Linked DNA regions of Homo sapiens. The protein of the gene in region 1 interacts with the protein of each later gene in a pairwise test. Each region holds a gene or a part of one and is shown on either strand. Other genes may lie near its edges. The genes, in order: PLXNB3 and BTBD3.

Region 1 (16,772 bases):
CACACACGCCCTGCCGCACCTGCCCGCAGGCCACCAGCTCCTGGGCGCGGCTGCTCACCAGCAGCAGCTGGTTGGCATTGTCAGTGAGCTGGGCCTGTGGGCACTCGGCTGGGTCACGGAAGGGCACGCAGTCAGGGCTGTCGATTACAGGGCCAGTGACAGCCACGGCCTCGAGCTGCAGCTCGGGGCTGAGCTGGAAGAGGCGGTTCACTGCGCCGACATAGAGTGTGCCTCGGCCAGGTGCCAGTGCCAAGTGGTTGAGAGTGGTATTAGGTGCGGAGAAGCGATGGGCCCCTGTCAAGGGCAGTGGCGGTGGGGACAGCAGCAGCAGGAGGAGGCAGAGGCCGAAGGGAGGCCAGCGAGCCATCACGGGGGCCTGTGAGAGGGCACAGGTCAGGGCAGTGGGAGCGCAAGGCAGATAGAGGACCAGAGGAAGGTGGAAGGTGGGGTGGACAGAGGCCAGGGTGCTCAGGGCCAGGGAGGGAGGGAGGCAGAGAGATGGAGAATGAGAGAGAGTGAGCGGAGACAAGGAGACAGAGGGGGCACAGAGAGAGGGGGACATAAGGAGGGACAAAGACAGTGTCCAAGAGCTGGAGCAAGAGGCAGGGAGGGGTGCATGCACGCACGCACAAGCACACAAGGACAGAATTCTTTCATCTCCTACTTTATATGCATGTAGATTGTTGAAGGGGGGCAGGTCCTGGAAAGCCGCAAGAGCGCTAACAGAGGGACTGTGAGTCACAGAGGGGGCAGGGATGGAGAGAGGGCAGGGGAGGGAGGGAGGCCGCGGGAGCTGGAAGGCTGGCGGAAGCTGTGTCACAGCGCGCCCCTGCGCCCACCACCCAGACAAGAGAGATCTAAGTCAGGTGAGAGGAGTGAGGCCACCGTGTGCCCCAAGGGACCAGACAGGGAGAGAAAACCTGCCTTGGGCAGCCAGGGCCGGCTGCAAGGAGGAACCCTCCGCAGCTGGGGGAAAGAGCCAGGCAGCCGCGGGCTGAGCAAGGAGCAAGTCAGCGAAGAGGCAGGGGTGAGCTCCATGCTGGCGCCCAGCTCCAGGGCGAGGAAGCACTGGGGCAAGGCAGCGGGGGTGCTGGGAGAAGCCAGGGGTGTCAAGAGACAACACAGGCTTCAGGGGTGCGGGGAGGCCTGCTCCTGCCCCATGGGCCCCAGCAGTTTGGGTCTCTCAGGGCCTGGCACAGGGGGCCTCAGTGTAGGAGTGTCCCAGGAGAAGAGCAGACCAGGAGAGCTGGCTGGGGGAGGGGTCAGGGAAGGGGCAGGGAGGGGTGCCAGACTGGAGATGGTTCCTGGGTGTGCCTGGTGGGACCCCGGGGTGAGCCCCCGAGGGTGAGAGGTGGGAGCAGCCCCTTCTCTGGCCCCTCCTGCCCTCCACAGAGAGATGCTGCCCTGGGTGTGTGGTCACATGCCGACCAGGAGTGGGGCCGCTGCGACTCAGGGCAGAGCAGCGCCTGGAGGAAGGCCCAGGAGCCGCTTATCTCAGGAACACAGGCAGGAAGAGCACGGACACTTCCTGCGGACCCCGGGCTATCTGGGGCAGTGTCTGCCATGAGGGAGGCTGCAGCCTGTATGTCCTGGGCCTGGCCACAGCCATCCTGCCCTACCCTGCCCCTCCCAGGAACATTTCTGGGGACACCGGGCCTGGGCACTTACCATGAAGTGGTGCAGCAGAGGGGTCTCCTGGGCGGCGTGGCACATACGCTCAGTTCAGCTGCCCCAGGGCAGTGGCGATGGGCATGAGATGGCTGCGGGGGGGCATTGTCCTGAGTGGGAGGGAGACAGTCGAGGCTCAGCCCCATTCGAGCTGGCCTGGGGAAGGAGGGGCGGCGGTGGGGGTGGCGCCCAGGGCCTAGCGACCGGGCTCCCTCACAGCTGGCAGCTTTGTCAATAGTGGCCAGGCCAAGGCAGCCCTGCCTCCACCACAACAATGTTCCCTCTGTCCAGAGGCCAGGCCAGGGCCCCACTCGCTAGTGCTGTCACCCCCACTGGGCTGTTCTGGACAGGGGGCTCCTTGCCACTTCCCACCCTCAGGGAGCCACCCCCGGGATCCGGGGACAAAGGGCCGGGGTTTCCTCCAGCCAGCCCTCCCCCTCTGGCCCTGCAACCCCTGTGTCACTAAGCATGCCCCTCCCTGGCTCCCCGGGTCCCTGTGAAGGGCACGGGGTGGACCTTGGAGCCCCTGCAAATGCCGGCTGGTAGCCTTGGGGCCTGGGTGAAGTGCCAGTCCTGGCCCTCAATGCCTGCCTTTGTCCAAAAGATCTTCCTCCACACCCCCAGCCCAGCCCTGCCCCTGGGGACTGGTGAAGTGGTGCCAGGTACAGCATGGTGGCAGCGAGCAGGACCACGGGAGGAGGCTGCTTGAGATGGGCTGAGGCAGAGGGTCCACAGGCCGGGGCTGTCCACCCCACCCTCTGAAGCACCGTCCTGCTGGCCTAGATGCCATCCATGCAGGGGATGGGGAAGGGAGGGGCACCTAGCAGCTAGACCCCCTGTCACCCTCACAGGCCACCCTGGCCAGTGGCACAGGAGCAGGTGCACTGGGGATGGGGTCTCTGCCTCCCCCACAGCACGGCAGCAGTAGGCTCCAGGGCAAGGTGGCAGTGGGCTGCTGTCACCTGGCTGGGCCAGTTGGGTGGCTGTGGGGGTGGGGAGCCAGGCGGGCAGCCTCTCTACCCTGTACCCTGCCCGAGGCTGGCGTTGGCTTTCCCATTTCGGGGAAGAAACATGGTTCCCCACCTCCTAACCCCAGGGCTACCACTTGGGGGACACCGTGCTCCCAGACACCTAGTGCCGTCGTCAGGCTGGGCCGACACCCGAGCGCTCTTGCCTGACCCCAGCCAGTTGGCCCTGAGACCCTGATGCCTTGCCCTGAGGCTGGTAGCCCCTGCACCCCAAGCCCAAGCCCAAGCCTGCCCCAGCTCTTGCCTACCTGGTGGGCCACCGGCGAGGGCCAAGTAGCAGCTGGCGGTGCCAGGAGCACGTCTCACAGAGCCCCAGCCTCCCTCCCCACAATGCAATCGTGCCCAGTCCGACTCATCCCAACAAGCCCGGCCAGGCAGCCCAGCCTCTCTCCGCCCGCCCCTTTGCCCAATGGCACAGGGCAGGATGTTGCTGCCCTCTGCTGGCCGCAGCGGGCATGATGGAGTACTGACCGTGGGCACCTGGCAGGTGAGAGACGGCAGCGCCCTCCTATTGGGTGGGCATTCCATAACCTGGCACGAAGCACCTACTGGATGCCAGGCTTGGGCTTGGCACTGGCACCATCCAGAAACAAACACAGGTTGGGAAACTGAGGCACAGGAGGTTAGGAAACTTGAATAAAGTCACACAGCTAGTATGTGGCAAGGCTGAGTCAATCACAGGGCCCCTTCACTTAACCGTCAGGCTACATGACCTTGAACCATGAACCTTGGCAGGCGTTGGGCAGGAGATGGAGCTGAGGCCTACCCCAGGCCAGGCCTGGACGTGACATGCCCACGTGGCGTTGAGGAAAAACCAGTGTTTCCCACCGACTGGAACACAAGGTTGGTCAAGGGCCGTCTCCCAGGGTGTGGCGGAGGTCAGCAAATCAGGTGGGGTCTTTGTGGCCAGGCTTGAGAACTTGAACTTGTCTCGCCATGGGCAACTGCAAGCTGGTGGCACTGGGGCAGAGAATGTGGGGAGGCCTGGTCCAGTGGTGGTCATGGGCATGGAGAGAGGCGGGCGCGTTCTAGAGGCGCTCTGGGGAGGCAGCATTCTGAAGACTGTGCGTTGGACCCAGGGCAGGAGGCGAAGGCAGGAGAATCCAGGCGACCCTGGGGCTTTTCTGCTGGGGCACTGTTCCCCCTGTGGCAGGGCCATCCACAGAGGGGCTGGCGGAAGTGGGAGGACGGTAAGACTGAGGGGCCCATGAGGGAGGAGGAAATGGTGATGGGGCTGGGGAGGCCTGGGGGTGAGAAGCTTGGCTCAGGTGGCTGGAGCCCTGGGGGCGGCCAGGGTATAGGGCCAGGTGTTGGCCCTGGAGCTCAAAGGCCCAGCAGACTCGGGGTATGGGTGCTTCCCTGAGCAGCTGTGTCATTCTTTCCAACCTGCATGGAGAGAAATGGGGCACAGAGGTGGGTAACTTGCCCAGGGCCATGACCTGACGTCGTTTCTTCAGAGTGCATTCCACAGAGATGGGATTTGAACCTGGGCATTCTGGCACGGGCCACGCTCTGGACCACTGGGCCCCAGATCCACAGCTTCTCACCTGCAGCCGCTGAGGATGTGGAGGCAGACCAGGCAGGCCCGTGGGAAGGACCACCAAAAAGCGAGTGAGCAGCCGGCGAGGGGTCTCTCCCCAACAGGAAGGCCAGGCAGCCTTGAAGGAGCCAGGGAGGGATTTAGAAGCTCCAGGAGGGGAGGCTTGGGGGAGCCAGCTGGCCTCTCTCCCTCTCCCTGTCCTTCCCCCCATGCCTACCCCAACACACACACACATGTCCTTGCTGGCCCCGGATGAGACAGACGCCTGCAATCTGGCATGGGGAATGGGTTTCTCCTTCCTTTCCACAGAAGAAAATAAATCAGGCTGGGCGTCGTGGCTCCCGCCTGTAATCCCAGCACTTTGGGAGCCTAAGGCAGCAGGATCACTTGGGCCCAGGAGTTCTAGACCAGCATGGGCAACATAGTGAGACCCCCATCTCTATAAAAAAATTTAAAAATTAGCCAGGCATGGTGGTGCGAGCCTGTAGTCCCAGCTACTTGGGAGGCTGAAGTGGGAGGATCGCCTGAGCCTGGGAGTTGGTGCCTGCAGTGAGCCGTGATGGTGCCATTGCACTCTAGCCTGGGTGACAGTGCAAGACTCTGTCTTTAAAAAAAAAAGAAAAGAAAGAAAGAAAAAAGAAAATAAATCCATCCACAGGCAGCACCATTTTCATAAATATGTGTGTATATGGCCTGCATATGCACCTTCTACGCTTTCTGAGCAGATAAGAGGCGTGGCTATGGCAGCCCCTGGTCTGAAGCTGGTGTAACCAGAAAGGATCTAGGCTGGTTTGGGGAACCGGAACATCTTATGTCAGGGGAGTCGTGCTGGATTTATCCTGCAATGGCCGGGTCCCCTCACCAAGGGATGGGAAGGCAGCGTCAACTGATCTGGTGTCGTCTCCTTGCTGTGTGCCAGGCTTCTCAATGCTGGAAGGGGACTCGTTGGGTCAGTGGGACGTGGGCTTCACGTTTGCTGGGCTGAAGACGTAGCTCTCCATGCTGGCATCCCAGCGGACACCCCCACTGCCACTGCTGCACCACGTCTTCACGTACACCAGAGAGCAGACTTGAGAGTTTCTGCGCATACAGTGGGTGTGAAATGGTGCCCTGCTGGGTTTTGAATCGGCATTCCTTGACCACCGGCCATATTGCAGCACTTTTCATTTCTTCTGTCAAATGCCCGTGCATGTCTTGGCTTACACTTTGCAGGTGTTCTGTATTTTCCACACCAATCCCTGGGGTGTATGTCTTCGGCCTACCTGTTACTTGTCTTCTCAGTTTGCTGATGTATCATGTGATAAACAGAAAGTCTTAATTTTAATATCATAGCATTTATCAATCTGATTTCTTTTTTTGAGACGGGGTCTCGCTCTGTCGTGCAGGCTGGGGTGCATTGGCGCAATCATGGCTCACTGAAGCCTCCTGGGCTCAAGTGATCCTCCCACCTTAGCCTCCCAAACACCTGGGACTACAGGCAGGCGCCACAGTGCCTGGCTAATTTTGTAATTTTTTTGTAGAGACAGGGTCTCGCTATGTTGCCCAGGCTGGTCTCAAACTCCTGGACTCAAGCGGCCCTCCCGCCTTGGCTTCCCAAAGTGCTGGCCCGTGAGCCTGTGAGCCACTGCGCCTGGCTACCTTCTTTTGAATTCCCATTCAGACTGTGTGTTGCTGGTACATAGAAAAACAATGGATTTCTATGTATCAAGTAACCTTGTAAACTCTCATATTAAGTCTAATAATTATGTTTGGGTTCTCTTTGTGGATTCTTTTTGATTTTCTGCGTACACAATCCTATCATCTGCAAGTAATGACCATTTTGTTTCTTCTATTCCAGTCTTTTTAGCTTTGATTTCTTTTTTTGAGGCAGAGTCTGGCTCTGTCACCCAGGCTGGAGTATAGTGGCACAATCTTGGCTCACTGCAACCTCCGCCTCCCTGGTTCAAGCAGTTCTCCTGCCTCAGCCTCCCAAGAAGCTGGGACTACAGGCACCCACCACCACGCCTGACTAATTTTTGTATCTTTACCAGACACAGGGTTTCACCATGTTGGCCAGGCTGATCTGGAACTCCTGATCCACCTGCCTTGGCCTCCCAAAGTGCTAGGATTACAGGCGTGAGCCACTGTGCCCGGCTGATTTCGTTTCCTTGCTTTACTTCCCTGGACTTGCTTTCTCTTGCTTTTACTTCCTTTGAATGAAAGCATAGGAGGCGCTGGGCATGGTGGCTCACGCCTGTAATCCCAGCACTTTGGGAGGCCGAGGTGGGTGGATCACCTGAGGTCAGGAGTTCGAGACCAGCCTGACCAACATGGAGAAACTCTGTCTCTACTAAAAATACAAAAAAATTAGCCGAGCATGGTGGCCCATGCTTGTAATCCCAGCTACTTGGGAGGCTGAGGCAGGAGACTCGCTTGAACCCAGGAGGCCGAGGTTGCGGTGAGCCAAGATCGAGCCATTGCACTCCAGCCTGGGCAACAAAAGCGAAACTCTGTCTCAAAAAAAAAAAAAAAAAAAAAAAAAAAGCATAGGAGGCATTCTCAGTGTTCCATTATTAAGTATGATGTTTGCAGGGAGCATTCGGTAGATATGTTTATCAGATTTAGAAAGCTCCCTCCCATTCCTAGTGTGCTATATGTTGAATTTTTATAAAATGCTTTTTCTGAATGCATTAATATGATCACAGGGTTTTCCTCCTCTAATCTGTTAATGTGGCAAATTACATTAATTCATTTTTAAATGTTAAACCACTCTTGTATTTTCTGGACTAAACTCAACTTTGCGTGATGTATTTTTTTCATATACAATTCTGGATTGGGTGGTTTTTTTTTTTTTTTTTAGCCTCGTATTATTATCCTCGTCTGGTTTTGGTATCAAGACATCGTAAAGTGAGTTGAGGCAGTATTTCCTTTTTCAGCTGTTCACTGGAACAGTTAGTCTAAGATGGAGATGATCAGTTACTTCCATGTTTGCTGGAGATCATCTGTAAAACCATCTAGGCCTTCCTTGTTTTTTATTTTCTGTTTTTTGTTTTGTTTCTTTTCTTTTCTCTTCTTTGTTTTTTTTGTTTTGTTTTGTTTTGTTTTGTTGTTGTTTTGAGACAGAGTCTCACTCTGTTGCCCAGGCTGGAGTGCAGTGGTACAGTCTTGGCTTACTGCAACCTCTGCCTCCTGGGTGCAAGCGATTCTCCTGCCTCAGCCTCCCGAGTAGCTGGGACTGCAGGCATGCACCACCACGTCCAGCTAAGTTTTGTATTTTTAGTAGAGACGGTGTTTCGCCATGTTGGCCAGTCTGGTCTTGAACTCCTGACCTCAGGTGATCTGCCTGCCTCGGCCTCACAAAGTGCTGGGATTACAGGCATGAGCCACCGCATCTGGCCTGGCCTTCCTTGTTTTTGTAGCTTCCTGCCTGTCCCCCTATAGATTTTAAACAATGAATCCAACTTCTGTAATAATTATGGGACCATTTAGGTTTTCTGTTTCTTCTTGAGTAATTTTTTTATTGTGGGAAAAAATACATAACACAAAATTTGCCATCTTTTTTTTTTTTTTTTTTGAGACAGGTCTTGCTCTGTTGCCCAGGCTGGGGTGCAGTGGCATAATCATTGTAACCTCAAACTCCTGGTCTCAAGCAATTCTCCTGCCTCAGCCTCCTGGGTAGCTGGGACTATAGGCATTCACCACCATGCCCAGCTAATTTTTAATTTAATTTTTTTTTTTGAGACAGATCTCACTTTGTCACCCAGGCTGGAGTACAGTGGCGTGATCTCAGCTCACTGCAACCTCTGCCTCCCGGGTTCAAGCAATTTTTGTGCTTCAGCCTCAAATTTTTAATGTTTTTGGTAGAGATGGGATCTTGTTACTTTGCCCAGGCTGGTCTCCCATTCCCAGACTCAATCAATCCTCCTACCTTGGCTTCCCAAAGCACTGGGATTACAGGTGTGAGCCACCATGCCCAGCCTCCAACTTTATTCTTTTGCATGTGGATATCAAGTTTCCCCTATACCATTTGTTGAAAAGACTGCCCTTTTCCCAATTTGTAGCCTTGATACCCTTGTCAAAAATCATCTGACCATATACTTGAGAGTTTCTTTCTGGGCTCTGGATTATATTCTGTCTCTGTCTTTATGCCAGGACCACACTGTAATATGTTTTATTTTGTAAATCAGGAAGTGTGAGTCCTCGAACTTTGTTCTCCTTTTTCAGAATTGTTTTGGTTATTTGGAGCCCCTTGAGATTCTATCTGAATTTAGGATGAATCATTCTATTTTGAGTCAATTTTTGATAAACAATATTTTTCTAGGAACATGCTTTTTTTTTTTTTTTTTTAGACAGAATCTAGCTCTGTCGCCCGGGCTGGAGTGCAGTGGCATGATCTTGGCTCACTGCAACCTTTGCCTCCTGGGTTCAAGCAATCCTCCTGCCTCAGCCTCTCGAGTAGCTGGGATTACAGGTGCCCGCTACCACGCCCAGCTGATTTTTGTATTTTTAGCAGAGACGGAGTTTCACTGTGTTGGCCAGGCTGGTCTTGAACTCCTGACCTCAGGTGATCCACCTGCGTCGGTCTCCCAAAGTGCTGGGATTACAAGCGTGAGCCACCGCGCCTGGCTGGAACATGCCCATTTTGTTTAAGTTTTCAAGTTTATTAGCATAAAGTGTTTTGGTTTTATTTTATCATTGATTTATTATTAATAAATGTCTTGGGTCAAAACCAGATGACGTTGCTTAATGTTCATTTATTGTTAACCTACAAAAATTGCAGTTTCATCTTGTTCAATCTAATACACACGGAAGAGCATATGCTGCTTAGATGAATCATCCCCACTGACAGCCATCATGGACCCTTCTTTTTCCCTTCGCAGTTAGTCCTAGCCTTTCCTTGGTTTTCTTTATACTTGTCCCAAATATGAATTAGCCTTAAACAATAAATTATTTACTTTTGCAACAAATTTTTTGGTTTTATTTTTTTAAATGTGTTAACTAGAATCACCATGCTGTACATCAGATCTCTGGAACGTCTCCATCCTGCATAACTGAAACTTGGTACCCTTTGACCAGCATTTTCCCATTTCCCCTACCCCAGTCCTGGCGGCCACTGTTCTGCTCTGTTTCCATGAGGCTGACATTTTTACTTTCCACGTGAGCAGCGTCATGCAGTATTTGCCTTTCTGTGCCCGGCTTACTTCACTTAATGTAATGTCCTCCAGGTTCCTCCATGTTGCAAATGGCAGGATTGCCTTCTTTTTAAAGGCTGAGTAGTGATCCATTGTGTATCTGTACCACATTTTCTTTATCCATTCATCTGTTGGTGGGCATTTCGTTTGATTCCATATCTTGGCGATTGTGAGTAGTGCTTCAATGGACATGCGAGTGTGGATATTGCCTCGACATACCGATTTCATTTCCTTTAGATACATACCCAGAAATGGGATTGCTGGATTGTATGGTCATTCTCACTTTAAATATTTTGAGGAACCACCATGCATACCATTTTCCATACTGTTCCAAAATGTTCCCTTTTCTCCACACCCTCGCCAAAGTTTGTTTTCTTTTGTCTTTTTGAAAACGATCATTCTAATTTGAGTGAGGTGGTGTCTCATTGTGGTTTTGAGTTGCATTTCCCTGATGATTGGTGATGTCGAGCATTTTTTTCTTTTTTTAAGATGGAGTTTTGTTCTTTCGCCCAGGCTGGAGTGAAGTGGCGCGATCTTGGCTTACTGCAACCTCTGCCCCCCGGATTCAAGTGATTCTCCTGCCTCAGCCTCTGGAGTAGCTGGGATTACAGGCGTATGCCACCACACCTGGCTAAGTTTTGTATTTTTAGTAGAGACAGGGTTTCACCATGTTGGCCAGGCAGGTCCTGAACTCTTGACCTCAGGTGATCCACTCACCTCGGCTTCCCAAAGTGCTAGGATTACAGGCGTGAGCACTGCACCCGGCTGATGTTGAGCATTTTTTTTTAATAGACCTATTGGCCGTTTGTATGTCTTCTTTTGAGAAATGCCTGTTCAGGTCCTTGCCCATTTAAATTGGGTTATTTATTTTTTCAATTTTCAATTTTTAATTTTTAGGAGTACATAGTAGGTGTAACTGGGTTATTTTAACTGGGTTAGAAAATACATTTGCTTGCTATTGAGTTGTATGAGTTCCTTGTGTGTTCTGTGTATTAACCTTGTATCAGATGGATGGTTTACAACTATGTTCTTCCATTCCATAGGCTGTCTCCTTCACTCTGTTGATTGCTTCCTCTGCTGTGCAGAAGCTTTTTAGTTTGATGCAAACTCATTTGTCTGTTTTTGTTTTGTTGCCTGTGCTTTTGGTGTCATATTGAAAAACTTATTGCCCAGACCAGTGCCAAGCAGCTTTTCACGTAAGTTTCTTCTAGTAGTTTTCTAATTTCAGGTCTCACATTTGAATCTTCAGTCCGTTTTGAGTTGATCTTTGTGCATTGTGTGAGATAAGGGTCTAATTTCATTCTACTGCAAGTGAATATCCAATTTTCCCAACACCATTTATTGACAAGACTGTCTTTTGTCTATCATGTATTATTGGCACCTTTGTCGAAGATCAATCAACTGTAAATGCATAGATTTATTTCTGGGTTCACTATTCTGTTACGTTGGTGTATGTGTCTGTTTTTATGCCAGAACCATGCTGTTTTGGTTACTATAGCTTTGTAACATATTTTGAGATCAGATAGCATGAGTCTTCCAGTTTTGTTCTTTTTGTTCAAGATTGCTTTGGCTATTTGGGGTCTTTTGTGGTTTAACATACATTTTAGAATTGCTTTCTCTATTTCTGTGAAAAATCTCATGGGAATATTGATAGGGATTACATTGAATGTGTAGATCACTTTGGGTAGTATAGACATTTTAACAATATTAACTATCCCAATCCATGAACACAGGGTATCTTTCCATTTATTTGTGTTTTCTTCAGTTTCTTTCATCTGTGGTTTACAGTTTTCGGTGTATAGGTCTTTCACCTCCTTGGTTAAACTTATTCCTAAGTATTTTATTTTTTATAGCTATTATAAATGAGATTGTTGGCTTGATTTCCTTTTTGGATAACAAAATAAATCTTCTTTGATGATTTCTTTTTTAGAAAGTGCATTGGCTGGGCGCAGTGGCTCACGCTTGTAATCCCAGCACTTTGGGAGGCCGAGGTGGGCGGATCACAAGGTCAGGAATCGAGACCACGGTGAAACCCTGTCTCTACTAAAAATACAAAAAATTAGCTGGGCATGGTGGCGGGCGCCTGTAGTCCCAGCTACTCGGAGAGGCTGAGACAGGAGAATGGCGTGAACCCGGGAGGCGGAGCTTGCAGTGAGCCGAGATAGTGCCACTGCACTCCAGCCTGGGCAACAGAGACTCTGTCTCAAAAAAAAAAAAAAAAAAAAGAAAGTGCATTGTTAGCATATAGCATATAGAAATGCTACTAGGTGAGGCATGATGGCTCACACCTGTAATTCCAGCACTTTGAGAGGCCAAGGCAGGAGGATCACTTGAGCCCAGAAATTCAAGACCAGCCCAGGCAACTAAACAAGACCCTGTCTCAATAATAGCAATAATATTAATACTAATTAGTCAGGCATGATGGTGCACATTTGTAGTCTCAGCTACTCAGGAAGCTGAGGTGGGAGAAGCCCAGGAGGTCAAGGCTGCAGTGAACTGTGATTGAGCCACTGTACTCCAGGTGGGGTGATAGAGCAAGATTCTGTCTCAAAAAAAAAAAAATAAAATAAAAAATAAAAGCTATTGTTTTGTATGCTGATTTTGTATCCTGTACCTTGACTGAATTCTAACAATTTTTCGGTGGAGTCTTTAGGGTTTTCTGCATACAGGATTGTGTGATCTGCAAACAGAGACAATTTAATCTCTCTCTCTCTCTTTTTTTTTTTTTTTTTTTTACGAAGTGTCACTCTGTTGTCCAGGCTGGAGTGCAGTAGTGTGATCTCGGCTCACTGCAACCTCAGCCTCTCAAGTTCAAGTGATTCTCCTGCCTCAGCCTCCCAAGTAGCTGGGATTACAGGCATGCACCACCACACCTGGCTAATTACTGTCTTTTTAGTAGAGATGGGGTTTCACCATGTTAGCCAGGCTGGTCTCGAACTCCTGACCTCAGGTGATCTGCCTACCTCGGCCTCCGAAAGTGCTGGGATTATATGTGTGAGCCACCGAGCCTGGCCTAATTTGGGTTTTTAAATGTTTTTTTTTTTCTTTTCTCATTGCTGTGGCTAGGCCTTCCAGGACTATGCTGAGTAGAAGTGGTGAGAGTGGGCATCCTTGTCTTGCTCCTGATCTTAAAGGAAGAGCTTTCAGCTTTTCACCATTCAGTATGATGTTAGCTGTGGGCTTGTCATATATGGCCTTTATGATGTTGAGGTATATTCCTTCTATACCTAATTTGTTGAGAGTTTCTTTTTAATTTTGTTTTTTTGGTAGAGACAGGGCCTATGTTGCCCAGGCTGGTCTTAAACTCCTGGGCCCAAGTGATCCTCCTGCCTTGGCCTCCCAAAGTGCTGGAACTACAGGCACGCACCAATGTACCTGGCTAATTTGTATTTGTTTGTTTGTTTGAGACAGGGTCTTGCTCTGTCACCCAGACTGGAGTGCAGTGGTATGATCCTGGCTCACAGTAGCCTCGAACTCCAGGGCTCAAGCCTCCAGAGTAGCTGGGACTACAGGCACACACCACCATGATTGGTTAATTTAAAAAAATTTTTTTTTGTAGAGGTGTCTTGCTATGTTGCCCAGGCTGGTCTGAACTCCTGGGCTCAAGAGATCCTCCTGCCTCGGCATCCCAAAGTGCTGGGATTACAGGCATGAGCCACTGCACCTGGCCAAGAGCTAATTTTTTTTTTTTTACATCATGAAAGAATGTTAAATTTTGTCAAATGCTTTTTCTGCATCAATTGAGAAATGATTTTATTCTCCATTCTGTTAACGTGGTGCATCACATTTATTGGTTTGCATATATTCAATCACCCTTGTATCCCAGGGATAAATTCTACTTGCTCATGGTGAATGAGCCTTTTAATGTGCTATTGAATTCGGTTTGCTAGTATTTTGTTGAAGATTTTTGCACCTGTGTTCATCAGGGATATTGGCCTGTAGCTTTTTTTCTTTTAGTGTTCTTGTCCAGCTTTGATATCAGGGAATTTTCTGACCTTATTAAATGAGTTTGGAAGCGTTCCCTCCTCTTTAGTTTTTTGGAAGAGTTTGAGAAGGATAGGTATTAGTTATTTAACTGTTTGGTAGAATTTACCAATGAAGCCATCAGGCCTGAGCTTTTCTTTGATGAGAGACTCTATTACTTGTCCAATCTCCTTACTCATTATTGGTCTGTTCAGATTTTCTATTTCTTCTTAAGTCAGTCTTGGTAGGTTGGATGTGCCTAGGAATGTATCCATTTTTTCTAGGATACCCAATTTGTTGGAGTATAATTATTCATAGTAGTTTCTTTTTTTTTTTTCTTTTTTTTTTTTTTTTGAGACGGAGTCTCACTCTGTTGCCCAGGCTGGAGTGCAGTGGCACGATCTCAGCTCACTGCAAGCTCTGCCTCCCGGGTTCATGCCATTCTCCTGCCTCAGCCTCCCGAGTAGCTGGGACTACAGGCGCCCGCCACCACGCCCGGCTAATTTTTTGTATTTTTAGCGGGGACGGGGTTTCACCGTGTTAGCCAGGCTGGTCTTGATCTCCTGACTTCATGATCCACCCGCCTCGGCCTCCCAAAGTGCTGGGATTACAGGCTTGAGCCACCGTGCCCGGCCTATTCATAGTAGTTTCTTACAATCCTTTGCATTTCTGTGGTATCAGTTGTAATGTCTCATTTCTGATTGATTTATTTGAGTCTTATCTCTTCTTAGTTGGTCTAGCTAGAGGTTTGTTGATTTTATCTTAAAAAAATCCCAACTCTTAGTTTCATTCATCTTTTCTGTTATTTTTCTAGTCTCTATTTCATGTATTTCTGCTTTGATCTTTGTTCTTTCCTTCTTTCTGCTGACTTTGGGCTTATTTTGTTCTTCCTTTTCTAGTTCCTTGGTGTGTAAAGTTAGGTTGTTTATTTGAGATCTTTCTTACTTCTTTTTTCTTTTTTTTTTTTTTCCAGTGACTCTCGTGCCTCAGCCTCCCAAGTAGCTGGGACTACAGGCATGTGCCACCACGCCCACTAATTTTTGTATTTTTAGTAGAGACGGGTTTTCGCCATGTTGCTCAGGCTGGTCTTGAACTTCTGGCCTCAAGTGACCCACCAACCTTGGCCTCCCAATGTGCTGGGATTATAGACGTGAGCCACCATGCCCAGCCTCTTTCTTATTTCTTAATGGAGGCATTTAAGGCTCTAAACTTCCCTCTCGGAATTGCTTTGCTGCACACTGCATTTTGTATGTTGTGTTTCCATGTTCATTTGTCTCAAGAGATTTTTTTTTTTGTTTCCCTTTTGATTTCTTCTTTGACCCATTGGTTGTTCAGGAGGGTGTTGTGTATTTCCACAAATCTGTGAGTTTTCCAGTTTGCTTTCTCTTAGTGATCTCTTGTTTGCGGTTGGGAAAGATGCTTAATGTGATTTGATCTTCTTGAATTTGTTAAGACTTGTTTTGTGGCCTGACATATGGTCTATCCTGGAGACTACCCCATGTGCAGCTGAGAAGAAAGCGAATTCTGCTGCTGGTGGATGGAATGTTCTGTGTATGTCTGCTAGGTCCATTTGCTCTAGAGCAGTGGTCCCCAATCTTTTTGGCACCAAGGACCAGTTTCGTGGAAGATAATTTTTCCATGGATGGAGGGTTGGGGGGTATGGTTTCAGGATGAAACTGTTCCACCTCAGATCATCAGGCACAACCTCGATCCCACACATTCGCAGTTCATGATAGGGTTCGTGCTCCTATGAGAATCTGATGCCGCTGCTGATCTGCCAGGAGATGGAGCTCAGGCGGGAATGCTCACTTGCCCACCAGTCACCTCCTGCTCTGCAGCCCGGTTCCTAACAGGCCACAGACTAGTACTGGTCAGTGGCCTGGGGTTGGGGACCCCTGGTCTAGAGTGTTGTTCAAATCCTGCAGCATTATTTTTTTTTAACTTCCCTATAAGTGGAATCATACTGGATATATTTTTCTATAACCTGCTGTTTTCACTCCACATGACATTTGTGACAGACATCCAAGTTGATGCACATAACCGTAGTTTATTCATTTATTTATTTTTTTAGACTTCTATGGTCTGACTCTGGGACATTTCTATTGCTGTATACTGTTTCATTGTATGACTCTAACATAGATCTTTTATCTGTTCTTCTGCTAATGGACACTTGGGTTGCTTCTGGCTTTTGCCTATTAAAAAACATTTAAACATTATTTTAAGCATTATAAACAATGATGCTGTGAGCGATTTTGTACATGCAATCTGGTGTCTAGGAGTGAAATTGTTAGCTTCTAAATGTGCACATCTTCAACTATACTGAATAATGCTCACTGTTTTCCAAAGTGGTTGTCCCAGTTTGCCTGCCCCGGGGAAGTGTGAGTTCCTGCTGCTCTGTAGTACTGCTAACACTTGGTATTGTCAGACTTTACATTTCTGCCAATCAGTGGATGCAAAAAGATACTTCACTGTGGGCCGGGTGCGGGGGCTCATGCCTGTAATCTCAGCACTTTGGGAGGCCAACGTGGGTGGGTCACCTGAGGTCAGGAGTTTGAGACCAGCCTGACCAACGTGATAAAACCCTGTCTCTACTAAAAATACAAAAATTAGCCAGGTGTGGTGGCGTGCACCTGTAATTCCAGCTACTTGGGAAGCTGAAGCAGGAGAATTGCTTGAACCTGGGGGGCAGAGGTTGCAGTGAGCTGAGATTGTGCCATTGCACTCTAGCCTGGGTGATAGAGTGAGACTCCGTCTCAAAAAAAAAAAAGGGTATTTTACTGTGGCTTAAATTTGCATCTCCACAGACCTTCTGTTCTATCTCTGGTCTTCTGTACAAAGTGGGGCAGAGATATGGGCATCTAGCATCTTCTTTGTTTTCTTCTTCTTTTTTTTTAATCTGCATAGCCAGTGCAAGGACAGCAGCTTCTTATAGAGACTTCCAATAAATCATCTTGTTCTGCACTCCCCAACACATACACACACATTGTTTCTGAGTTATCTGGTGCCTCCGATTCTTGTGCAAACCCAACTTTGCCACTGGCTGCCTCCCACTACTTTTTTTCCCCTAAGTGTTAAAACATTTATTCGAGATGGCAAAATTCCTACAAGTTTTCCTAGCATGTAATTGAGGAAAATAACACAATTTTTGTAATTATTAAATGTGAAGGGAAAATTCTTTTGGATGTATTTCTTTTCCTGAAATGCAGAGGTGGAGATGTCAGGTTGGTGAAAGGAGGCGGTATTTCAAATGGCTTCTTTTCCTGGTGCCTGGTAGCCTTTGACCCCACGACGTATCATGGTGCAACATCCTGCTCTTGTCAACTGGGGTCAGGTTTCTGGGAAAGGCAGGTTAGGTTAGAGCCCCTGTGCAAGCTGAGGCGGGACATTGGCTCCTTGGGACCA
Region 2 (14,991 bases), on another chromosome or scaffold:
TATATAAATACTTGATATAAAGAAATATAATGGAAAACTAGTTGAGCACATAAAAACTATATTCAAAATTCTTACGTGCCATTTTTTAAATTCCTAGACTTAAGCTACTGTAACAAAGGAAAAAGCAGCATTGGTCATATCAGAAGCCAGATGTCATTCAGTATCAACACCCCCCTTAGCACAGGAAGATCCAGACATTTGAGCAACTATAGCTTCAGAATACCGGCCAACCACGAATTCCATAATAGAAATATAAATGCATCCATTCATTCCCTCTCATTAACAGTCAGGCTTTGAACAATGCAAGTGATTAACACATTCATTGTTCTGTTATCCTTTTGCCTCAAATTTTTACTTCTTTAGGGATCAAAGATATCTGAACACTTAGCTAACAAATGCCTCTGCGAAACCATCTCTGCAAAACGTAGTGGGCATCAAAAGTGCCAGCATGAATTTTTTACTATCTCAAGGGTGTGACAAAAGCACTAAAGGAAAACAAATCTATGAACTAGTTTTATTTGCATTTAACATGATTATACACATTCATGTGTCTAACAAGATCTGCACTGTTACATTAAAAATACAGTACAATAACATTCAACATGAGGTACTTCATATTTATGTATTTTTTCCTTCATAAATAATGCTGTAAGCTACTAAATTCAAGCACACTGATGCACAAGTGGCTACAGTGTCTTGAATTAGCTGAGCTTATTTAAACACCTTAATAAACAAAAAAGTTCAGTGCAATAATTATGTAGAAATTAGACCATTTACTTAAATACTATTTTAAGATATGCTTAAAGAATGTCACATTAGAACTGCTAGCCTAGTTCCCCTTTATCCCCAGAATGAACAACGACAAAGACTGCCAGCCAGATACGTTGGGGAAAAGCATCTACAGTGTATTCTGCTTAATAAAGTTGTGTTTATAGAATAAAGTTGCCTGCTTTGTTAGAACAATGGTTTCTAGTTTTAAAAGCTACAAAATCCAAGATTACAAAAGTAAATAAAGCAAGCATATTAGCCTTCATTCCATTTCATTGAAAATGCATAAAGGACAATAGGGTTTAAAATGTAAAATTTCTTATTCTAAATACAATTTTCAAATTTTACCCACAGCTCTCGGTACCAGCCAATCAGATGGTAGATATGTTTTAAAGTAATAACAATTAACATAAAATTACATTATTCTATACACAGTGTACAGGATTTCACACGACTTTCACCAGCAGCTCACTAGTCACATGGAGGCAGCTAGCAAACATGGGCACTGACAGTGAGCGTTAGTGAATGAACGCACTGCACCTGAAGACTATCACACCCACCTCAACAATCTGATAGGATGCAATTAAAGTTTCTTCTCTGGCTTACAAACAAGTGCCTTCTTATAAGGTCTACCAATTTGCACAGCAGCTATGAGTTACTGAAATGTGTAACCATAATTTAAAAACCAAATCTTTTGTAGAAGTGTGCTTTTTAATTGAAAATGTACCTTTGTACTTCAATGCTTTGCCAAACTACCTGTAATCTCCCCAATAAGAAATAATTGTACTTTTAGAACGTTGTCCTGGAAATACTCATCTATAATCACCAGTAACAGCTTTTCATCATCTATGCTAATAGATGTAGGTAATGGCAAGAGTGATTAAAACATTTCCAATAATCCAGTGTTCTCCTCCCTCAGGGAAGCCGGCTGAAGGCAACAAGCCCACATCTACAGGGGAAGAAGTGGCCCAGAGGCACAGTGAATACGTCAGGGCAGTCACTCATGGGCCTTGCTGGGGCCAGCAGGAGGACCATTACTGTCCCACCTCTTACTAGCCAGGTAGAGAGGAGACAGCTCCTGAGCTGGCAAACACACTTGCATGCGCATGGGTGCGCAGGCACACACACACCCCAGGACTAACTCCTGGCTCCAGACAAGCCAGTTTCAGGCTTGCAGAGCAGGAGCAGGAGGCGGCCAAGGACCACACTCTGGGTGGCGGCGGGGAAGCCATCTCAGGATCACACTGAGCAGAAAAGCTGCCCAGAAACACATGGATACTTCAACTGGAAGTGAACACACTGGACACTGCCAGGGACACAGGCACTAAACCAGCACAAGCCAGCAGCGAAGGAGAATTTAATAAGTTTTTCCCTCCTTTGTTTACATTATCTGTGGACAAGTAAGGGAGCTAGATGTGATACTGATGCAGTGAATATTAGGTATAATAAAATGTGTCACTCCAGGCCATTTTTTATAAACCCTGCAGGCATATGTTGGCACTTTAAGATGGCCAGGGGCCAGATTCTAGCAGTCTAGGAACAGGACAAAATTAAAATTAACAAAGAATATAGTATACAATCAAAGTGGATCAGGTAAAGTATATTTCAAATTTAAAAAAATGAACAAAGGTATCTCATTACATTAAATGTAGTGCTACAAAACTAGTTGCTACTCCATTTGTATAAAGAATTGTTTGGTCCTCTTTTAATGGGGAAAAAGAAAATAGAAATTCTACACAGTATGACTTATACAAATAAGCAAACAGTGGGGATCAAAAGCTAAGTGGAGAGAAGAGTTTGGCTTTTTCAAACTGCATATTCTTATATGCCATCAATTAAATTATTTGTAGTATGAGTCTTTTTCAGGCTTCCTTTTTAAACTGTCTTAGTTTAAATTAGTAGGAGTTTAACTTTTTTCTACTGACAATAAAATCTAAAAATTTACTTCTAAAAGAAGTATCTGTATTGAAATTTTTTGTCTTCTAAACTAAAAGAAAAGAAATCTGCTTGTAGAAGTCATGGCCTAAACAAATGCCCCCAGTTCCTTATTTTCCAATTTTACATTGATATTCTGAAGTGTTTAATACCTAACTATCTTATGAATTTAGTAATTTTTTAAATCCCAGAAGCAACAAATGTAAAAGGAATAAAACGAGAGCCAAACACAACCACTGTCTACTTTCTAAATTATTACTCATTACAAGGCAAAACTTCTTTCAAAATTGTACACTGAGGTTTATCTGTTTTGGGGGGTAAGAGGAGTTCTGTTTAAAAATAACTCTTGTTATCACTTTATTTCTGTTCATCAAATAACGTCCAAAAGGAAATTCAAGGTGATCCAAAATTATCTTCAGAGGGACAAAACTGAGAGGGTGGTGGAACGCTTGGGAAAGCACATAATCTCCCCAGGTTCATAGATGCAACTCTAAAAACCACAAAGCCTTAATAAGAACGTTAGCTCTTTTAAGCAGATAGTTAAAAGCGGAATGCTGCATTTTTGCCTGTACATAATTAAAAGGTTAAAAGAAATTAGAACCTGCCTACCGCTTCATTCATTACAAATTACCGGCACTGATCACATATTTGCAGATGAGCTAAGCATCAGGCAAGTTGGAACCAGATGTGCACTTTGGAGCTCAAGCTGCTTCAGGAAGTGAGTTTTCAAGCATAGAATATAAGTTCAGGGATCTGCCCTCCCTGTACCCCAGTGCCATTGGTGCTATCTGAGGAGCACTGAAACTGGACAGTCACTTTGCCACACTGAACTTCTGTCATGCCTTCTTGTCCAAAGTAGCTGAGTTCATTGCCATCCAGTATCACACTGGCTGTGTAGAAGGTGTCTGGCTCGATCTGCACTGGGTATTCAAACCATACGGGAAAGGTATTGCTGGACCCATCTGAGAAGTACTTGCTCAAGTTCTGCCCCAGGACAACGCCCTGCCGCTTAAGTTCAATCTTGGCACTGTATTCTGCAGAACCACAGCTGGAGCCATACAGCCCAAAGCCAGCAATGAACACTCTTTTATCAACTGCAAACTGGATGCTGTCACAGCGACCACGATAGCGCCATTGGTTGCTTCGATAGGCACACGACTGGAAACGGTGACAGCGCTGGGGGACAAGGCCCTTACGGGCTTTACTCACAAACTGAAGCTCAGGCTTTTTGGCTGCAGTATACCAGAGGAAGATGTCGTTGGTCTCATTGAGAGTTAATACCCCGGACTGTGCAGCACCATTTGCAAAATCATCGAGGGCCATTGTGGGTATGCGGATCAAGTAAAGTGCCTTTCCTAGAACCTTGCGTTTATTTTCAATGCTCAACGCCAGATCTTGTCGTTGGCATTCTACTTCAGCCCAGTTGAGAGCTGCCTCAAAAACCACAATTTCTTTGGCATTCAGAGTTTCCCTACGGAGAATACTTTCTAGTGTCTGGAAGTCAATATCGCAGAATCCCTCAGACTTGAGAGCTAACTCAGCCTGGGCATCAATCACCTCCCAGCAACGCTGGGTCAGGTCTGGCTCCTCGAACAGGCAGCTCTGGGAGAGGAGCACACAGGCATTCTTGGCACTCAGGCTGGTCTCCAGGAAATTAACACAGGCTCTGGCAAGGTGAGGGACAATGTACTTTTTGGCAGCATAAAGTGTGGCCAGCACTGTGTCAGCAGCCAAGTCAATTTCATCACAATAGATATATCTGTAAAAAGCACATAACATGTAAGTGGAATTTTCACAAAATGAGTACATCCAGCAAGAAAAGATACAACCACTTTCAAGTTTGTTCTGAGAACATCATCTTATGTGACAGTTAATACAAACATATTTGCAGAGTAAAGGAACATTCGAAACATATTAATAAATTATTAATATTTTAACCCAGTAGTAAAGTTTGTATAATTAAAGATATTAACTTTGTGCTACCATTCTAGCCTCTATTTTATAAGCTGCATTCAGTGTCATCTCAACAAAACAGAAGCTATTGAAACTGAAAAACAACTGCATATTGAATAGTCAACATTACAAAAAAATAGCAAAATTCTATTATATATACTACATTATATTTAACCAAGAATAGTCTCGTTATGTTTTAAGAGCAATTATTGCATCTTCATGCTTTTGGAGTTTTCCTAAGCACAAAATAAAACCTGAGATTAATATTTTCCAAATAGTTCCAAGTTCAATGGATTATCAAAAGTATGGACTGCAATGCTATCGTCCAGTTAACTTTACATAGAATCCAACAGACTTTTTATTTGTTTTTGTTTTTTAAACTCAAAACTCTTCCTTCTCCACACATTCCTTCTACCTTCAGAATTCAAGATTACATTATTTCCAGATATATTTAATTAAAAGACAAAGTAGGAAAGCTTAAATATGTATTATTCCTGTGCTTCTGTGAACTGTCCTTATTTCAGGATATAAAACACTTCACAGGATACACTTTTTGGGAGACAGTGGCAGTCTCCCAAAGAGGCACGTAAAGGTAGTCATCATCTGCTTCTCTTCTACCTAAGGTCTACAGCTACTTTATCTTGAGTTTTCCTTTAGTTATTGTATTTCACCTTAGTGAAACACATAAAACTTAAGAAATTAGCAACAGCTTCTATAAGAAAGTAAAACACAAGAATGGCAATGAGAAAAATGTCCACGAGCACAAATGAAACCTGCCTTTTTGCTCACAGGAACCTTTCTCTTCTCTGATAGGCGAAGTCACCTACTGATGGCAAGGCCACTTGATAGTACACCTGCGGCTCAGTGATGCTCTGACTGTGAGCCAGGACCCTGGGGAGGATCCTAGAGCATGGTCAGCACTTTCGAGCTCTTACCCTGGAACTGTCAAGGGAGCAGCTGTCCTCTTTTTCTGACAACCCCAGGAATACTGGCTACTCATACTCGATGAAGCAGGCCACCGCTTTCACAACTACAGCACTAGAGCAAATGGCACCTGACTCATTTCTGATCTTACCACATTTTGTGGACTGCATGTATAATTTTATAAAGCTTTATCAATATCTGCTATAGGCAATGCATCTGTGGGAAAAGATACTTGTCAAATGATTCATCAAATGACTTAGGTGAGATGTAATTCTCTGCCATTCTTGTTCATGTTTCCTAATTATGTATATATCAGGAATGATACAACATCCTACTTGACTGCAGTGAAGACAAAATGCTGAACTAGTGCTAGCAATCTCCTCAGCAACAGAAAACACTATAAAAAATACAAAGCTGACTTCATGCAGTGGGGATACTTGCAGGTAAAACTGGTTTCTGTACATATATCTCCAAAAGATTACAAAGGTTAAAAGTAGCAGATTAGTTTACATTTTGGTACTTCACATGCTCACTTGCCTTTAATTTCCCTATCCCCTACTGTGAAGGTCTTGTCAGTGACAATTATATTTCAAAACTGTAAGATGAATAATGAATTAAATACTTTTAAGTTCTAGAACTAACTACAGTACTTATTTTTCAGAAGACAGTAAACAATGTATGGCAACATTTTAACTATATGTAGGAGTACTGTCCAACTTGTTGACCCACTGAATACTTTTTTCAACAAACATTTTACTTATTCCAATGAACTGAAATCCCTAGAGCAACAGATAACCTTAAAGTAATACACTTTGCTGTGCTAGAATAAAGATTAGGAAAAATCATATAAATACTACTTAGAATAATAATTAGATTATGATCACTTGGTGAACTACCACACTGTCTAGTACCGTACATGATAAAGAAGCTGATTCTATAACCTGTTTAACACATACTGGTGCCTGCAGAAGACCCACCAGACAGAAAACTATCTTTTTTATAAATATATAACGTATCTTTAAGTTTCATACTTCTGTATTACCAATGAAAGTTCTTCTGTATAAATCCACATGAAACTGTACGAGACTATCCATATCTTTCTAAGATTTCCCCTGTAATGTCAAATGCAAGTACTTTTTACCCTTGAGAGTGTCTGATTTTATATGAGTATGTATATGTATGTGTACACAAAGATCAGATTATTTCAACAGATGGTAAGTTTTTCATTTGCTCTTAGGAGACAATAACTCTTAGAATACTCAGAAATCTCCCAACTGGTGTTACTTAAATAAGGTACTTAACTTCTGAAATTGTGAAGCAAAAACATTTGTTTAAAGACTTTTTCACACACAATGCTTTCAGAGAGAACATCTTCTATTAAATAATGCTAATACCAGAAAGTTATTTGTCTTTAATTTTAAGTTGTTAAAAATCATCACTATACATGCCACTTGCTCCCAAATTCTACGTCAAGGTGCGATTATAAATGCTGCATAATTCCATATGCTTTCCACGGAAAGCTAAAGTGTTCTTTTCCGAAAACATTTACAAGGTAAGCAGCACCCTCTTTCTTCATCAGTCTTCTTTTCTGTTATGCAGAACTTAAATTTAACTGTGAAACCAGCAGGGTACAAATACAGCATAAACAAACTCTTTCCAAACACACGAATGATGCTTACTTCAGCATAGCGAGAAAAGCAGCAGGTTCGACATCTGGTATACGGATTTCATCTTTGTCCTCTGCAAGTTCTCCGTAAAACATCGCATGGAACACAGAGCTCCCAACAGCTAAAACATACTGTGTAGAAAGGGAAATCTTATTTCATACACTAAATTGAAGGCATTTCCAGCAAATCAATGCAGAAAAACAACACTAGGCAATCAGGTTTAGTAAACATAGCGTACCTAAAATCTACTGCTTTGAAAAAGCCAAGGTACACAGGGTAGCTTGCCATGGAAGCATAAGACCATGCTGCTAATTATTTCAAAGCTTTAAGAGATTAATGCACATGTCCCCTCATTACTAAATACATACAATAATAGCTTACATAACTAATTTCTAGGAGAAGGGTAAACATACGACTTTCCTGACCTGTCACAACAACTTCCCATGTCTGGAGAGTTAAGAGGGGATGTGTGAGATATAAAGCAGTATAGAAGGAAACAAAGAAAAAATTAAGCGTGGCCAAAGCCCTCTGGAGAGGGTGCGCTCTCTCCCTAATCGAGTGAAACATGCACTGCCTGACATCGGCAAGCTGCCCACACCAAGTTACAGGCTTATGGAAAGGGTCCCTCTTTGTAAACGTCAGGACTAAACCGGTCATGCAGCTGTTGCTTACTTTGTGTCCTGGCAACCGTTGAGTCCCACCTGGTGGCCCAACCACAAAATGTACATCTGCCATCAAATCATTATTGAACATCATCGCATTTCTATAAACAGAGGCAACTCATTAATTCACAGCAGCCTGCATTTTTAACATCCCCTTCCCCAACATACAAAACCCACAAAAGACTTGCAAGCTAAGCAACAGTCCAGTAACTTCAAGGCAAAACAACAAATAAAGGTTCTAACTAAACTGTTCATAATCATTGCAAACATAAGGGAAGTAACTAAAGTTTAAAATAAAAGTTATACAAACTTTTAATAAAGCTAAGGACAAATAAAAGGTTCCCATTTTCTATGGCCCATAGACAACCCTGTCACTTGAATGTTACAGCTTGCAAAAACATTTTTATCTAAGAGGAAAACAGCTGTACTGTTTTGGAAAAGATACAAGGCAATTTTCCATTACCAATAAAAAGCTTCTGGGAAAAGAGGAAACAGATTTGTGTTCAAATACATTACAGGTTTTGCAAAAGCAGAAACTTCAACACAGGAAAACTTTTAAAGTAAATAGACTAGCGCGGCACTTACCTCTCTCTAATGGTGGGATAAAGACCCTGCCAGTTTGGGGCCGGGATAAGGTTGTTGTTACTGAGATTCTGCTGGTGGTACTGCTGGACGCTGGTGCTGCTGGAGTTGGCTGGCTTTTTACGGGGGAATATATCAGCAGCCATCTTCTTCTTTTTAGTCTTCAAGGTAATTATTTCATAACAAACTGGTGGCAACTTGCTGCTGTTGCTACTGCTGCTGCTGGTATTTGCTTTCTTTGAGCTTTTCTTGGACCTGTTCTTTACCGTCTCTGGAAGCATCAAGAAGAAGGTGAGACATTTCATGTTCTTTTCCTTGTCATCTACCATGAGTACAGTGTGTCTCTCTTTAGAGTTAGATATCCCAAATTGGTTTGAACATCAAGGAAAAGAGATTAGCCCGGGCTAAGAGGTTAACTGAAACCAACAAAGCTGATATTTTGCTGCTTTTCTCAGCCAGGCAAGGTGACCTTTTCACTATGTTGAATAGAAACTGGCTTTAAGTTTTATCCAGTACTGGGTCTGTTAAATATATCCCCATCATGATTCCTGTTTCTCTTATTTGCTCATAAAAATAACTGTTTCCTAGATCACCTGAAAATGCTACACTGCAAAGATGACAGGCACAGAGCTGTAGCACTTCTTTTCTGAATTAGGTCAGCAAGATGGGCTGGAGCTGCGTGAGTCTGTTCAGCCGGCTGAAGTTGTGTGGTGAATGGATCGGAGGAGAGTAGGTATTACAGCCCTGCAGATGGAGTCAGACAGCCAGTGCTCCGAGCCAATAGCTGAAGTCACCAATCATGATTGGACCAAGCAAAACAGTGACACCTATTGTAACATGCATAGTTCTGATATTAAAGGAACAGCAGTTGCATTTTCTTGTCTACTGTATATTTAAACAAGATAATAACATATGAAATATATTTGACAACAGGAAGGGAGGAGTTTATGCCCACAGATTTCTCTTCAGTAGACATACATTATGTCCCCAGTTAAGCAGGATCAATTAACAAAGGGTAGGGACAGATATCTATATTTCTACTAAAATCTTTTTCCCAGCAGCATTTAGTTTCAAATACTTAAAACAAAATCCTCCAGTCTATAAACTGAAAAGGGCTATTAATAGCAAAACACATTTATTACACTTTAAAGGCAAAGGACGTTATTTTTCTTTTTCTTAGCCTCTTTTGAGTGCAAGTCATAGTCTAGTGCTAAAGAAGAGAACTGAGGCCATGTGTTCAGTTTACCTCCCAATGTTTTCTAGCTTCTATAATGGTCTTTGACAGGTGTCTCAGGTCACAAAATACTGTTAATTAGATTAAGATTATACCCGTACACCTAAGTACACTAAAGCATAAGATAAACTCTAGAAGTAAAAATAAGATTCAAATAAAAACAAATCTGATGATCAATGTTCAAAGGCTGTAATTCACTAAAAATATTTCAGATGGGGCCATGTTCAGGATCTCAAAATTCAACTTAACTGTTAAGGCTACATTTAGTCTTGTCTTAATTTTAAAGAATATAATCCACAACTTCTAAGACAGAACAAATAACAAGGCTATTCAAAATGATAAATGTTCGGATTCCACCTAGTTAAAATGCAAACAGGTTCTCTCTGCTTTGAATTAGAAGAATATAAGCTACCATTTGATTTTTGTAGGTGTGAATCCTCCAACCATTTCTAGCGTTGGTGAGTAAAAAAAACAAAAACACCGGCAATAGGTTCTGCATATGCTTATTTATTGTAAAGAGGGACTAATTAAAATATTTAATCTCACCCCTATCTATTTGGATCACGCTCATTTGTTCAAAGCACAGCAGCCATTTGCTACCCCTCAGGCAAATGCACCCTTCATGACCACAGCCCTCCTTGTTTTAACATTTGTCTGAATAATGACTACCTGACACAGTGAGGGCTCAGCAAATAAGAGTTACGATTGTTATTGTTATAATTAATAATCTGCTAAAGGCGGTTACCAGAAATCAGTCTTTAAATCCCTAGAACACTAAATTGAACCAAGAAATATCCTCTTTATTGTTGTTATTATTATTCTTAAAACCATTTGCAAAGCCTCTGTAAGAGAACCAGGGCCTGTAGCACAGTTACCTGTCTCCATTTTAGATGGATCCTGAAGCACTGCTTATTTATTATGATTATCATGTTCTCAACAGCAGAACACACACATACAGATACCTCCAAATCATCTTCATACACACTTTAACACACAATGTTAGAGAGGGATCTAGAAACCAGTTTAAAAAGCACATAGAGAAAGTCATGAAGAAACAAGTAAGCTCCTATTGACCTAATTATTCAGAATAGGGTTAACACTAAAGGATTTCTCTCTTGCTCAAGTGCCACTGAACTTCCTTGACCACTTCCTTGCAGGAAAGCTCCCATGCCAGGTAGGCCTTTCTGACTGGGATTAATCTCATAAATATTTCTAACAAATCTAGTATCTGGCTTTTCAGGTCAGAAGTAATCAATTAGAATGGAAAGGGAAACCAGCTGCTTTTAGGCAGACATACTATTAATTGGTAGCTGGATGGAGACAAAATAGAAAAAACATAAAACACAGATACAAGAACTTAGAAGGGTTTGTGATCTTTACTCATTTTGCATATGGCTCAATACCCATCACCAAGAAGTCTCCAAAACACATGGCTCTTACACCACTAAGTTAAAGAAAAAAAGTAAAGTGGATGTAACAGTTTGAGAAAGAGAAGTATGCAATATTGTAGAACATGTTTTCTAAAATTACAGATATCAGTTATTTAGAAAAATAAGTTTTGTAGAAAATTCTGACAATACTAGTTAAATGAAGTAGCGCTAAATCTGAATCATCTACAAGAGTGCTACAAAGAAGGGCATTATTACTCCAATGTATGTAAGGACTGATGAGCATGGCTGTTTAAAATCAAGACAGAAAAATTATCTGACGGCTACTTTTTCTTACCACGGTAATAAGGCAAGTAATGCAGGTTCTTGCTACTGAAAATGTAGTTGAAGGATCAGCAGCAGCATCTACAGGGAGCCTATTAGTCACCCAGAATCTCAGCCAGACTCTGGATCAGAATCTGCATTTCATACAGTATTCAAGGTTGAAAAAAACTTCACATAGATAACTACTGACTACTAGATGTCTTCCCAATGATCCAGTACCAACATCTGGTGCCATATGTTGCATTCAACTATTAAGTGAATTGAAAATAACTCAAAATAATTTAATTTAGTTTGGACATTAAAAACTTAACAACCCCTCACATCTTGTTCTGAAATTCTTCTGATTAGGCCCCAAATGTCAAATTCTAGGATTGAGGTGTGCAGACAGCCAACTGAGAGGGACCAAGATATTCTCTGGAAAGGAAGCGCCAGCCCCAATTATTTTAAAAGATAATGACAGTGATGATTTCGGCAGGAAAAATAAGGAATTAAAAAATGTCAACTATGAAGCAGATAATCACTTAGTACTTTTAAATGGTCTACTTCACAATTGTATTTCAACAAATTAGCAATGTAGCATGGTAAAATTAGCAACCAATCTAGTTCAGTCCTGGCTGGGCCACTTAAAATAGAGAAAGGCGAGTATTTGAACAAATCATTTAGCCTTTAAGGGCCTCAGTTTTCCTCAGCTATAAGATGAAAGAGATTCACCCAGAATGAATGTTTTTCAAACTTTACACTCAATCCACAGTAAGAAATGCATTTTATATTCTGACTTAGTACTAAACATAAACACACATACAGGCATACAAATGGAAAGACATGGCTCAAAAAACAAAACCTACTCTTAGCATGTTATGATATACACTCTGATATTTTCTATTTTCTTCTTTCTTCTTTTCTTTTCAATGTTGGTCATAATCCATTCAACTGATCTCATGACCACAGTTTAAGAAACACTGGTCTAGGTTATTTCTAAGGGCATTTAAGGTTTAACACACTAGGTTCTTTTCTTTTTTTTTTATTTTATTATTATTATACTTTAAGTTTTAGTGTACATGTGCACAATGTGCAGGTTAGTTACATATGTATACATGAACATACTAGGTTATTTTCTATCAAGAATTCAGACTAGGGACCACCAGATGATGGCAAGTTCATGAAACTCCTCAAGCTGTCGGTGAAATTGGCAGTATGTGTGCATTTATTTTTCTAGAAAGAGAAGCCATGGCTTTCATCTGCCATGAGTAATTGCAACCCAAAATACAATAAAATGTTAGGGTTAAAATGTTATAAAACTATAAGATTGATTTGAATATACAAAATTTTGGTATCACTTTATTCTTTCATTTCTATAGTCTACTACATTAAATACAAATTATGGCTTCTTTTCCTCCTTGATTAAACATAAATAGTTAAAACTCCATCTGTTGAGTCTGTAACCCAGAAACATCACCCACTGGGTTGAAGGGTAAAAAAGGATAGCAGCCTGATGTCTACTGCTACATTTTACTCCTAAAATTTCTTTCCAATAGGCATTTTATCACTTGTTTCTACACTTCCTGAATTTTAGAGCTGTCTGCCCTAATGAGGTAAATAGGCCAAGAAGTCCATCAAGTTTGTATGAAAGTATTCCCAAAATAAAACATACTGACTATGCAGTGTATTAGGTGTTGGGCATACGGCGGTGAGCAAGACTAGAAACCAAACTTAAAAAGTTAGCTAATAATAGTGTGTTTCAGTTGATTTTATAATTGCCAGAAAGCTGAATCACTGTTAACCTATTTCCATTCAATTCCCAATAATAACAAAATTATCCACAGAATTTAAGCTCACTTAGATCATCCTTTTCACCACTGGAAGGTTTGTCAGCAATCCTACCTTTATTTAATACAATCTGACATATTCACTTTGCAGACCTGAATGAGGTTTGAAACTGAACGGGACTCCAGAAATCATTTAATGCAACTCTTTTTTCACAGGTATGGCAACTGGTGTCAGAAGTATAAGGGGTTTGTGAAAATTCCACAGTAAAGAAGTGGGGCAACACCTGGACTACGAGGCGGATCTCCTGGCTTGTCATGTTGTTTGCTTCATTCACTCTAATATTCACTCACAGTAATTACCTCACACACTTACAGAATGCTCAATTGTCATATTTCTAATCTACTTTAAAAGAAGAGCTTTCTTTTAAAGTTTACAAAGATGAAAACCATGAACATATGTAGTCTGCACCCCTGTAGGGGCACACTACAGGCAAGAATGCTGAAAGGATACTTGTGGAATGAGATGGAAGGAAGGAACTGCAGTGAGGACGCTGCTCAAAAACAGAAGAGGCTCTCCAGGTAAAATAAAGTTAGAAACCAGCTATTCACGGTTAACACCAACTTCTATGTCAACAACTAATAATGCTGGCAACTCTTGTTTAACTTGCTCTAACTCTGGACTCCTTGTCTGGACTTGTACATGGTTTACTACAAGGCCGCTAAAAAGCAACAGCAGTGAGGTTAACAGAGGTTTAAACAAGGTAAGGTAGACTGAAGAAATACCTATCACTTCCAAAAATGATTAACATAACCTAACAGAGGAGAGTAGTTTAATCTGGTAAGTTATGAGGGAATAGTGTTTTGTTTTTGCTTATTTGTCCCTTCAATACTGAGCAAAAATTATGCTTTTGATTTGGGAGGTAAAAAGATAAGCAACAAAATGTTGGCAGTCCCCAAAGTCAGCAGAAGCTGCTGGAAAACAGACTATATATGCTTTCTAAATTTGGAAATAAATATGGAGTCAAGCGCTGGAAGCATAGCATAGCTAAAAAAGCAAGAGCTAACAACAAGTGACCTTAAGGTCAGTATTTGTGAGCCTCATTTTCCACATCTGCCAAATGGGGTAATTAGACCCAGCTTCTCCCTCAGGTTTATTGTGAAGGCAAGATTATATGTTTTGTGAAAGCACTTTAGTTAAAAACAGTCTACAAAGGTAAGTTCTCACCATTAGCAGCAATTGTGCCCAAAGCAGGAAACGTTTGTGATGCAATCATCTAAAACACAAAATCTCAAAGATTAATCTAGCTCCTCATCCTTGTACTCTTTTCAGACTGCACAGCTACTGACATTTCATCCTATCTGCAGGCTTCCTCTAGCCCCACCTATGGGCCAAGCAGGTCCCATTTTGCTGTGAATCTGATTTTGCAGGGAAGGTTCAATAATAAGCAAGATTTGTGCTGTGCACTGTGATCCGGTCCACACCCAATGTCCAAATCCCACAGTGTTATTTCCAAACCTGCACTTGAACCCACACTTCAGGCTGGGTGCCCATTGTGGACTTCAAACCTCCATGAGGCCACCTGTTGGCTGATTCACTGCTGTGCCCACTTCCTGAGACAGCCTCCTGCAAGGAGCCCATCTAGCCACCCAGCCATATCTCACTAGCAACTCAATTTGGCCTCTCTCGACAATGACCCAGTTTGAATTCCAGCACCAAGGTTGATAACTAAGGCCAAGTATTTGGCCAAGGCATACCTCAGTGCTGTCCACAGTATAAGGTTCATGGTC

The links.
Region 2: the proteins of PLXNB3 (region 1) and BTBD3 interact in a two-hybrid assay, tested with the Homo sapiens proteins (one study listed by BioGRID and IntAct).

What each region holds. Positions count from the first base shown.
Region 1 is NC_000023.11:153,750,477-153,767,248, reverse strand, and holds the start of PLXNB3 (plexin-B3 isoform 1 precursor), read right to left. Parts: upstream 3,001-16,772; 5' UTR 2,945-3,000; intron 1,779-2,944; 5' UTR 1,714-1,778; coding exon 1,669-1,713; intron 1,091-1,668; exon of another isoform or gene 1,039-1,090; coding exon of another isoform or gene 925-1,038; intron 867-924; exon of another isoform or gene 778-866; intron 377-777; coding exon 1-376. UniProt on the Homo sapiens protein: Receptor for SEMA5A that plays a role in axon guidance, invasive growth and cell migration. Stimulates neurite outgrowth and mediates Ca(2+)/Mg(2+)-dependent cell aggregation.
Region 2 is NC_000020.11:11,912,105-11,927,095, reverse strand, and holds BTBD3 (BTB/POZ domain-containing protein 3), read right to left. Parts: upstream 9,204-14,991; 5' UTR 8,821-9,203; coding exon 8,495-8,820; intron 8,011-8,494; coding exon 7,920-8,010; intron 7,379-7,919; coding exon 7,260-7,378; intron 4,463-7,259; coding exon 3,430-4,462; 3' UTR 501-3,429; downstream 1-500. UniProt on the Homo sapiens protein: Acts as a key regulator of dendritic field orientation during development of sensory cortex. Also directs dendrites toward active axon terminals when ectopically expressed.